Homo sapiens: one gene and its partner. The protein of the gene in region 2 purifies or fractionates together with the protein of the main gene of each other region. This does not show direct contact. Each region holds a gene or a part of one and is shown on either strand. Other genes may lie near its edges.

Evidence for each region. The genes of interacting proteins can lie anywhere in the genome.
Region 1: the proteins of IGFN1 (region 2) and PC purify together in Homo sapiens (affinity purification with mass spectrometry; one large-scale study listed by BioGRID and IntAct). This does not show direct contact.

What each region holds. Positions count from the first base shown.
Region 1 is NC_000011.10:66,867,735-66,871,383, forward strand, and holds part of PC (pyruvate carboxylase, mitochondrial precursor), read right to left. Parts: coding exon 3,581-3,649; intron 3,464-3,580; coding exon 3,318-3,463; intron 3,159-3,317; coding exon 3,041-3,158; intron 2,720-3,040; coding exon 2,568-2,719; intron 1,231-2,567; coding exon 1,112-1,230; intron 1-1,111. UniProt on the Homo sapiens protein: Pyruvate carboxylase catalyzes a 2-step reaction, involving the ATP-dependent carboxylation of the covalently attached biotin in the first step and the transfer of the carboxyl group to pyruvate in the second.
Region 2 is NC_000001.11:201,193,690-201,197,338, forward strand, and holds part of IGFN1 (immunoglobulin-like and fibronectin type III domain-containing protein 1), read left to right. Parts: intron 1-464; coding exon 465-584; intron 585-2,149; coding exon 2,150-2,289; intron 2,290-3,528; coding exon 3,529-3,628; intron 3,629-3,649.

The DNA of each region.
Region 1 (3,649 bases), on a different chromosome or scaffold from region 2:
AGGACGCTCTAAGCAGACCCAAGACCGAGGAGTTCACAGCAGCTTGAGGGGAAGAGTCTCACTCGGCCAAAGTGTTGGCCTTGTCTCTAAGCTTCTCCTAAGGGGAGGGAGGGGCCTCCATGCCCCCGGCGAGCCACAGCAGCCACCCCGACAGCATCCTCAGTCTCAGGTGGGGTTGGGGCTGGGGGCAGAACTGGGGTCAGGGATGCTCCACAGTGAGATGGGCTGGCCCAAAGCAGCGTCAAGAAATTACATGGCTCATAGTAGAGACCTTGAAGGGTGAGGGCCATCATGACTGTCATTTAGAAACCAGGCGGATTTTGAAAATGTCATCCTCAGTGCCTGCAGGGAGCACGCTAGTGCCACCTCTCTAGAGGGCTGTTCCGAGGGATGCTACTTATCCTTCAATCAGATAATCCTGTTGAAGGGTTTACCCTCAGAACTCTTCAGAGCTGAAGCCAAACATTCAGGCACACAGATGATAAGTGACACGCTTAATAACCACCAAAGCCAGACACACAAACTAATTGCCTAACAATCGAGGACTATGTAAGTTAAGAAATACACACAAGACGGAATAGTACGCAGCCACTAAAAGTATTCAGACAGAATTATGGCCTGGGGAAATGCCTTCAACAAATATTAAATAATTTGAAAAGTAGAATAAAAATTCTATATAAAACATCTCTATTGCATCAAACTATGTCTCTAGTAAAACAGGTAAACCGGGAAAGGAGCAAACCAAAGACAGCCGGAGATGCCTGGGTTCCAGCGCCAGCTGTGTGACCCCGAGCAACTCTCCAAATGTCTCTGAGCCTTGCTTTACTCCTCTGACAGATGGGAGCACCTGGGCCTGAGCAATCGGCAGCGTCCTGACAGAGAGGAGGGCTGTCAGTCATTTTTATTTGCTCCTTTGTGCTGATTTTTATAATAACCACGTAATGCTTTTAGAATAATGACTTTTAAAACACTAAGTACCTGGATCCCCATTGCTCTCCACCAATGTGGGGAGTGAGCAAGCCCCCTGGCTGGCCCCAGGAGCCACTTCGCCTGTACTTTATGCAAATCCTAGAAGCCGCGCCTCCCGCCCCGCCTGCCCGCCCACACTCACTCGGTGATCTCCTCTGTGACCGTGTGCTCCACCTGCAGGCGGGAGTTGACCTCGATGAAGTAGTGCTTGCCGTGCCTGTCCACCAGGAACTCCACGGTGCCTGCGTTCTCGTAGCCCACCTGTGGGGGCGGCCACGTGAGCAGGGGAGGGCACAGGCAGGGCCTGGGCAAACTCACTGGACTCAGGACAGGGATTCCGTCCCACCCATTGGGTTGGTTCCGTAAAAGAATGGCCTGTGGCAAACCCTGCCCCCACAGATGGCAGACAGACCCCAGGGCCCAGGTCATGCTCCTGCCTGGACACGTCCCCCAAGTAGTCCACTAGGCTCCAGGGTTCCCGGAGCCACAGATGGCTGCACCCAGCTTATCTGGGACGAGACATGGGCAGAAGCCCCCACCCATCCCAGGCTCGGCACCTTGCCCTGCTGCCTCCTGGGCTTGCCCGCCAAGGCTGTGTCATCCACCCAGACACGGAGACCCAGGCCTCTCCCAGCCGCTGCTTCTGCTTGGAGGTGTTTTCAGAAAGTCCCCTTCTAGTCTACTGCGCAGTCACCTCTGGCCACCACCACCCAAAGAAATTCATTTGAGAGGTACCAACAGATAATGACTCTAACTCAAATTTCAGCCCTAATTCCAGTTTCACTTTTGGTCTCACCAAAACGATAAACCAGACTGAATCACCTCCCTTAAACCTGTTCTGGAATGTGAAATAGTATAAGCCAGTAAATAAGACCTGACTTAAACGCGACCCTGGTCGATGCCTCGCATTAGCTGTGGCTGAGGCCTTGCTGCAGAGTGCACACCCCGGCCTTCGGCATGGGGAGGTGACGCATCCTCTGCTGCCTATAGGCCAGGGAAGAAGAGGGGGCAGGACCCCGCTGCACACCTGGCCACAGCAGGTGCTCTCCAGGCCAGTCCTGGGGCAGGTCACTGTGGGGAGATAGCTTGCCACCTCAGCCTCCTCCACAGCCCAGGACCCCCCGACCAGAGGTCCCAGAAAAGCAGAGATGGGCAGAGGGTGCAGAGCAAGGAAACAGATCATAATAAACATGATGTAGGAGACAGAAGCACATGAGGGAGGACTGCCTTCATAATGGTCCTCAATCTTGACAGAATCCACGGAATCTCATTCTCCTGATGACAGGGATGAGCTGATGCCACAGAGAAGCCAGGTCTGTGTAGCAGCAGGGCTGAGGAGGCGGCTGGGGCTCCTTCCCTCCCTCTTCTCAGCCATCCTGGACTCTAAGCTTGGCCTCTGGGCCAGGTGCCTCAACTGCACATGGGAAGGATGCCACAAACCCACTTCTGGCCCCCAGGAGAGTCCTTCACCCTCTTCTCCCCATCCCCAGTCCCCAGAAGGGGACTCAGGGTCCCCTTCCCCAACCAGCGCCCCACTGTGAGGCCTGCCGGCCTGTGAGCACAGGCTCCTGTCCCAACACGGGAAGCCCACCCTTCACCTGTTTAGCGAGTTTCACAGAGTCGCTGGTGAGCCGAGTCCGAAGCTGCGGGTCCAGGTGGGCGGCGGGGGCAATCTCGACCACCTTCTGGTGCCGCCGCTGGATGGAGCAGTCTCGCTCGTACAGGTGCAGGATGTTCCCATACTGGTCCCCTGGGGAGGGAGGTAAACTGGGCTTAGCTTTTACTGGAATCTACACGCCTCCTAAATGCCCCATCACCCCCACATAACCACTGTCGCCAGTCAGTGCCGGCTGCCAGCGGTACAGAGGCTGCCAGGAGAGACACCAGCATCACCAAGGCTGTGAGGACCAACTGCCAGCTCGGCCCCTAGAGCCCACTTTCCAGAGTCCTCTGGAAAAGCGCCCGACAGGCCCCAGGGCTGTCCCCAAGGCCAGCCACTGTGACGGCACCAGGACTGGGCCTCTCAGCTCCCGCCTCCAGCTGCCCCAGGCGGGGCGTCAGGACCACTCACCCAAGATCTGCACCTCGATGTGCCGTGGCTTCTCGATGAACTTCTCCACAAACAGCGCCCCATTCCCAAAGGCGGCCAGAGCCTCTGAGTAGGCCCGGGTGTAATTCTCCTCCAGCTCCTGCGAGGGCGGGCAGGGGCCAGCCAGACCTCAGACCCCACAGCGCTACCTCTCCCCTGCCATGAACCCCACCCACTTTCCAGATCCCTTGAGTGGTCCGCCCCTGCCCCCACGGCAGGCTGCCCTGCCCTGCTCCCAGCCCTGGGCATCTTCACTCACCTCGTAGCTGTGCACCACCCTCATGCCACGCCCTCCACCCCCATAGGCCGCCTTGAAGATGATGGGGAAGCCGTAGGTGTTGGAGAACTCGTGGGCCTCATGCAGGGACGTGATGGGGGCATCTGTGCCAGGGACAACGGGAACACCTGTTGGGAGAAAGGTGTGGGGGAGTCTCTGTAACAGGCGGGAATCCCTGCCACCCCTCCCTGCTGGACCCTCTCCAGGAGCTGCGGGGCCACCCCTTGCTTGCCCGTTATATTCACCCGCAGCAATGGCGATGGCCCGGGCCTCCACCTTGTCTCCCATCTTGCGGACCACTTCTGGGCTTGGCC
Region 2 (3,649 bases):
GATCTGCCCACCTCGGCCTCCGAAAGTGCTGGGATTACTGGCGTAAGCCACCGTGCTTGGCTTTTTTTTTGAGTCTTGGCTTTGGGTTTTGATTTGTTTTCCTGAGTAAGGAGTGCAAAGCCCCCACACGAGCTCCTGCTTCTTGGCTTCCTGAGAAGGAGCCCTTTCTCACTCTTTCTTCCCAGCTTTTCCCCAGTGACACACTCAGGGTCTTCCTAGGGTGCCCCACCCACTTCCTAGAGGCTCCATTCACACTGCCAGAGTGTGTGCCACCAGATTCCCACTAGAGAATTCAAAAGCACTGTGCACAGGCAGGAGGTACTACAAATAATCCTGACCCAAAAGTAGGAGCGAGAAGGGGCTTCTTGCTCCTGGGGTGAGTGGGTGGATGCCCATTCTGTTGAAGGGCCACCCAGGAGGAAGAAGGTGGAAGGCCCCATCTCCTTCCCTCCTGCATTCTCCAGGAAAGCTCCGGAAGTCCCACATCCCTGGAGTGAGCATCTGGCAGCTGGTGGAGGAGATCCCTGAAGGCTGCAGCACGCCGGACTTTGAGCAGAAGCCCGTCACCTCGGCTCTGCCAGAGGGTGAGCCCAGAGGGGAGCTGCGGAGGGGAGGCAAGATTCTTGCTCTCCTACCTCCCAGGGGAGAGGGCTGGGGCACCAACCTTCCTGGGGACCCAGGCCCTATATCCATCACTAGGCCATAGCCCATCTCCCTCCTATCCTTGAGGGGGTATGTGCTTACCTGGAACCCTAGAAGTGACAAGAGGCCTGGGGAAAAGAGTGGATAAAGAGAGTGAAGAGACACCATGCTATTCTGGTGTGAGAAATATCTGGGGGGCAGGGATGGAAAAATGCTAAACTGGGGAGCAGGGAGAGGTTGTGGTGTTTCCTGGTCCCTGTCTCCTCACCTCAAAGCCACTGCTGCAGAGAGGCACTGTTAAAACAGTTAATTTGACTCTTCCCAATCCTCGCCTCCAGGCAGCAGCACCTGCTGTGGCTCACAGGCTGGGCTCAGGAAGGCCCTTCTAGAAGGCCACATAAGAAGGTGTCCAAGAAAGTGGTGGGAACAAAGGCTTATTGGGGAAAAAGTGGGAATTGGTGTTCTTTCCCCAACACACACCCTGCAATAAATTTTAGTTCATAGCATCCTGGTAATAAGAAAAAGAATGGTATTTTATTTTTCTAAATCTGGAACAAGGTAATGAGAAATTGGGAAGGGCCCTTGGGCCTTTGGTCTATATTGCTGTCTACTGAGATGTTCCTGGTGGGAGGCTGAGGGATTCCTTGAGGGCGGGCAGTTCCCAGGCCTCCATGACAGGCATGGAGCATGGGGTCTTTTCTGAGGCTGAAGCCTGTGTCTCAGCACCGGATCCTTCGGGCACCAAATAGTCACTCCTTCTCCTAGTTGTGATTCCTCCTCCCCCTAGAGAGTAGGAAGGGAAGCCAGAAAATCTCTTCTTTTTTTTTTTTCTTTTTTTGAGATGGAGTCTCGCTCTGTTGCCCAGGCTGGAGTGCAGTGGCGCAATCTCTGATCACTACAACATCTGCCTCTGGGGTTCAAGTGATTCTCCTGCCTCAGCCTCCCAAGTAGCTGGGATTACAGGCACATGCCACCAAGCCTGGCTACTTTTTGTATTTTTAATAGAGATGGGGTTTCACCATGTTGGCCAGGCTGGTCTCGAACTCCTGATCTCAGGTGATACGACTGCCTTGGCCTCCCAAAGTGCTGGGATTACATGCGTGAGCCCCTGCGCCTGCCCGGAACTCACAAAATCTCATTCCCTTCCTAGTCTTGGCAGAGCCTTCAGACTCCTTGCTCACCCACTCTCAAAGAAAAGCCCCTGTCCCCTAAAGCCCTGCTGGCCTCCCCTTTCACCAGGGCCAGTCCACCTGTCTCTTTCCCTCAAGCAGCCCAAGCTTCTGCAATATAGAAAGAGGAAGCACTGCCTTCTGGGTGCCTGGAATCTGCTGCTTTCCACCTGCGTATTCTGAGTCCTGAGTCAAGGGGACCAAGGCCTGGCATCCTTTTTGGAAGGGGCAGTTGAAATACCTAGATGAGGAAGACGATATAAATTAAAATTTAAATAAAGTATACAGTCACCCTCTCCCAACTTGTCAGTCTCCCTACTCGTCTCTTCCTGCTGCAGGGAAAAATGCTGTCTTTCGGGCTGTGGTCTGTGGGGAGCCCAGGCCCGAGGTGCGTTGGCAGAACTCCAAAGGTGACCTCAGTGATTCCAGCAAGTACAAGATCTCCTCCAGCCCTGGCAGCAAGGAGCACGTGCTGCAGGTAAGAACCGTAGCTCTTCCCCTGACCAGGGTCTACTCGTCTTTTCCCATCCCCTTGAAGGTCTCTTTGGCAGCCTCCAATCCCTAGAGGAGTAAGACATACTCCTCGTTGAGGTTGAATCCATTCAACTCCATCTCGTGACTCAAAGTTGCCTGAGCCAAGAATGGATCTGGCAGGCTTGCAGATACCTCTGCTGATAACCTGGGAGGTGGTGTAGACTGGAGCTTAAGAGCTCAAGCTCTGAAGTCAGACTGCTGGAGTTACAATCCCAGGCCCACCACCTTGGCTTTAGAAAGTCATTTTACTCTTTTTACCTCTGTCTCCTCATTTGTAAAAATGGGATAATAATAGTACCTACTTTAAGGAGTTGTTATGAGTTGTTGTTGAGATGGATCTCACTCTGTCGCCCAGGCTGGAGTGCAATGGCGTGATCTTGGTTCTCTGCAACCTCCACCTCCCAGGTTCAAGCGATTCTCCTGCTTCAGCCTCCCAAGTAGCTGAGATTACAGGCATGCGCCATCACGCCCGACTAATTTTTGTATTTTTAGTAGAGTTGGGGTTTCACCATGTTGGCCAGGCTAGTCTTGAACTCCTGACCAACAATGATCCATCCGCCTCGGCATCCCAAAGTGCTGGGATTACAGACATGAGCCACTGCGCCTGGCCAGGAGTTGTTATGAGGATGAAAGTTTTATGTAAAGTGTCTAGCTAGTGCCTGGCCTATAGTGAGTACTCAATCAATCTTGGCTAATCTGAGCAATATTATAAATACTAACCATGGGATACCTACTATGTGCCAGGCCCTACTATGTCCCAGGGGCTAAATATTTGACATAGATTATATATTTAATTCTAATTATTCACCACTTTTTTGAGGTATTATATTCCCATCTTACAAATGAAGAAACTGAAGTTGAGAGAAGTTAGGTAACTTGCCCAAGGTCCCACAGCTAGTAATACAGGACAGAGACTGTTTTCAGGCCCAGATCCATCTGACCCCAAAAAGCACACTCTTTCTACTTCGCTACATTGCCTCTGATGGCAAAGAATTGATACATCCACCCTCTGTCCCAAACCAGGTTTCTGTTTTGGGGTCTGTCTTTCCTGATAAAGACTGTGAGCTCCATGAGGACAAGGACCATGTCTTACTCACTTTATACCCCCAACACATAGCCGTGTCTAGTAAATGGAGGAAGGGGATGTGGTAGCCCTGTTCCTCTGCCCTTGGCCTCTCTGCAGATCAACAAGCTGACAGGCGAGGACACGGATCTGTACCGCTGCACAGCAGTAAATGCGTACGGAGAGGCCGCTTGCTCAGTGAGACTCACTGTCATCGAAGGTGGGCTTTTCCCTGAGTTTG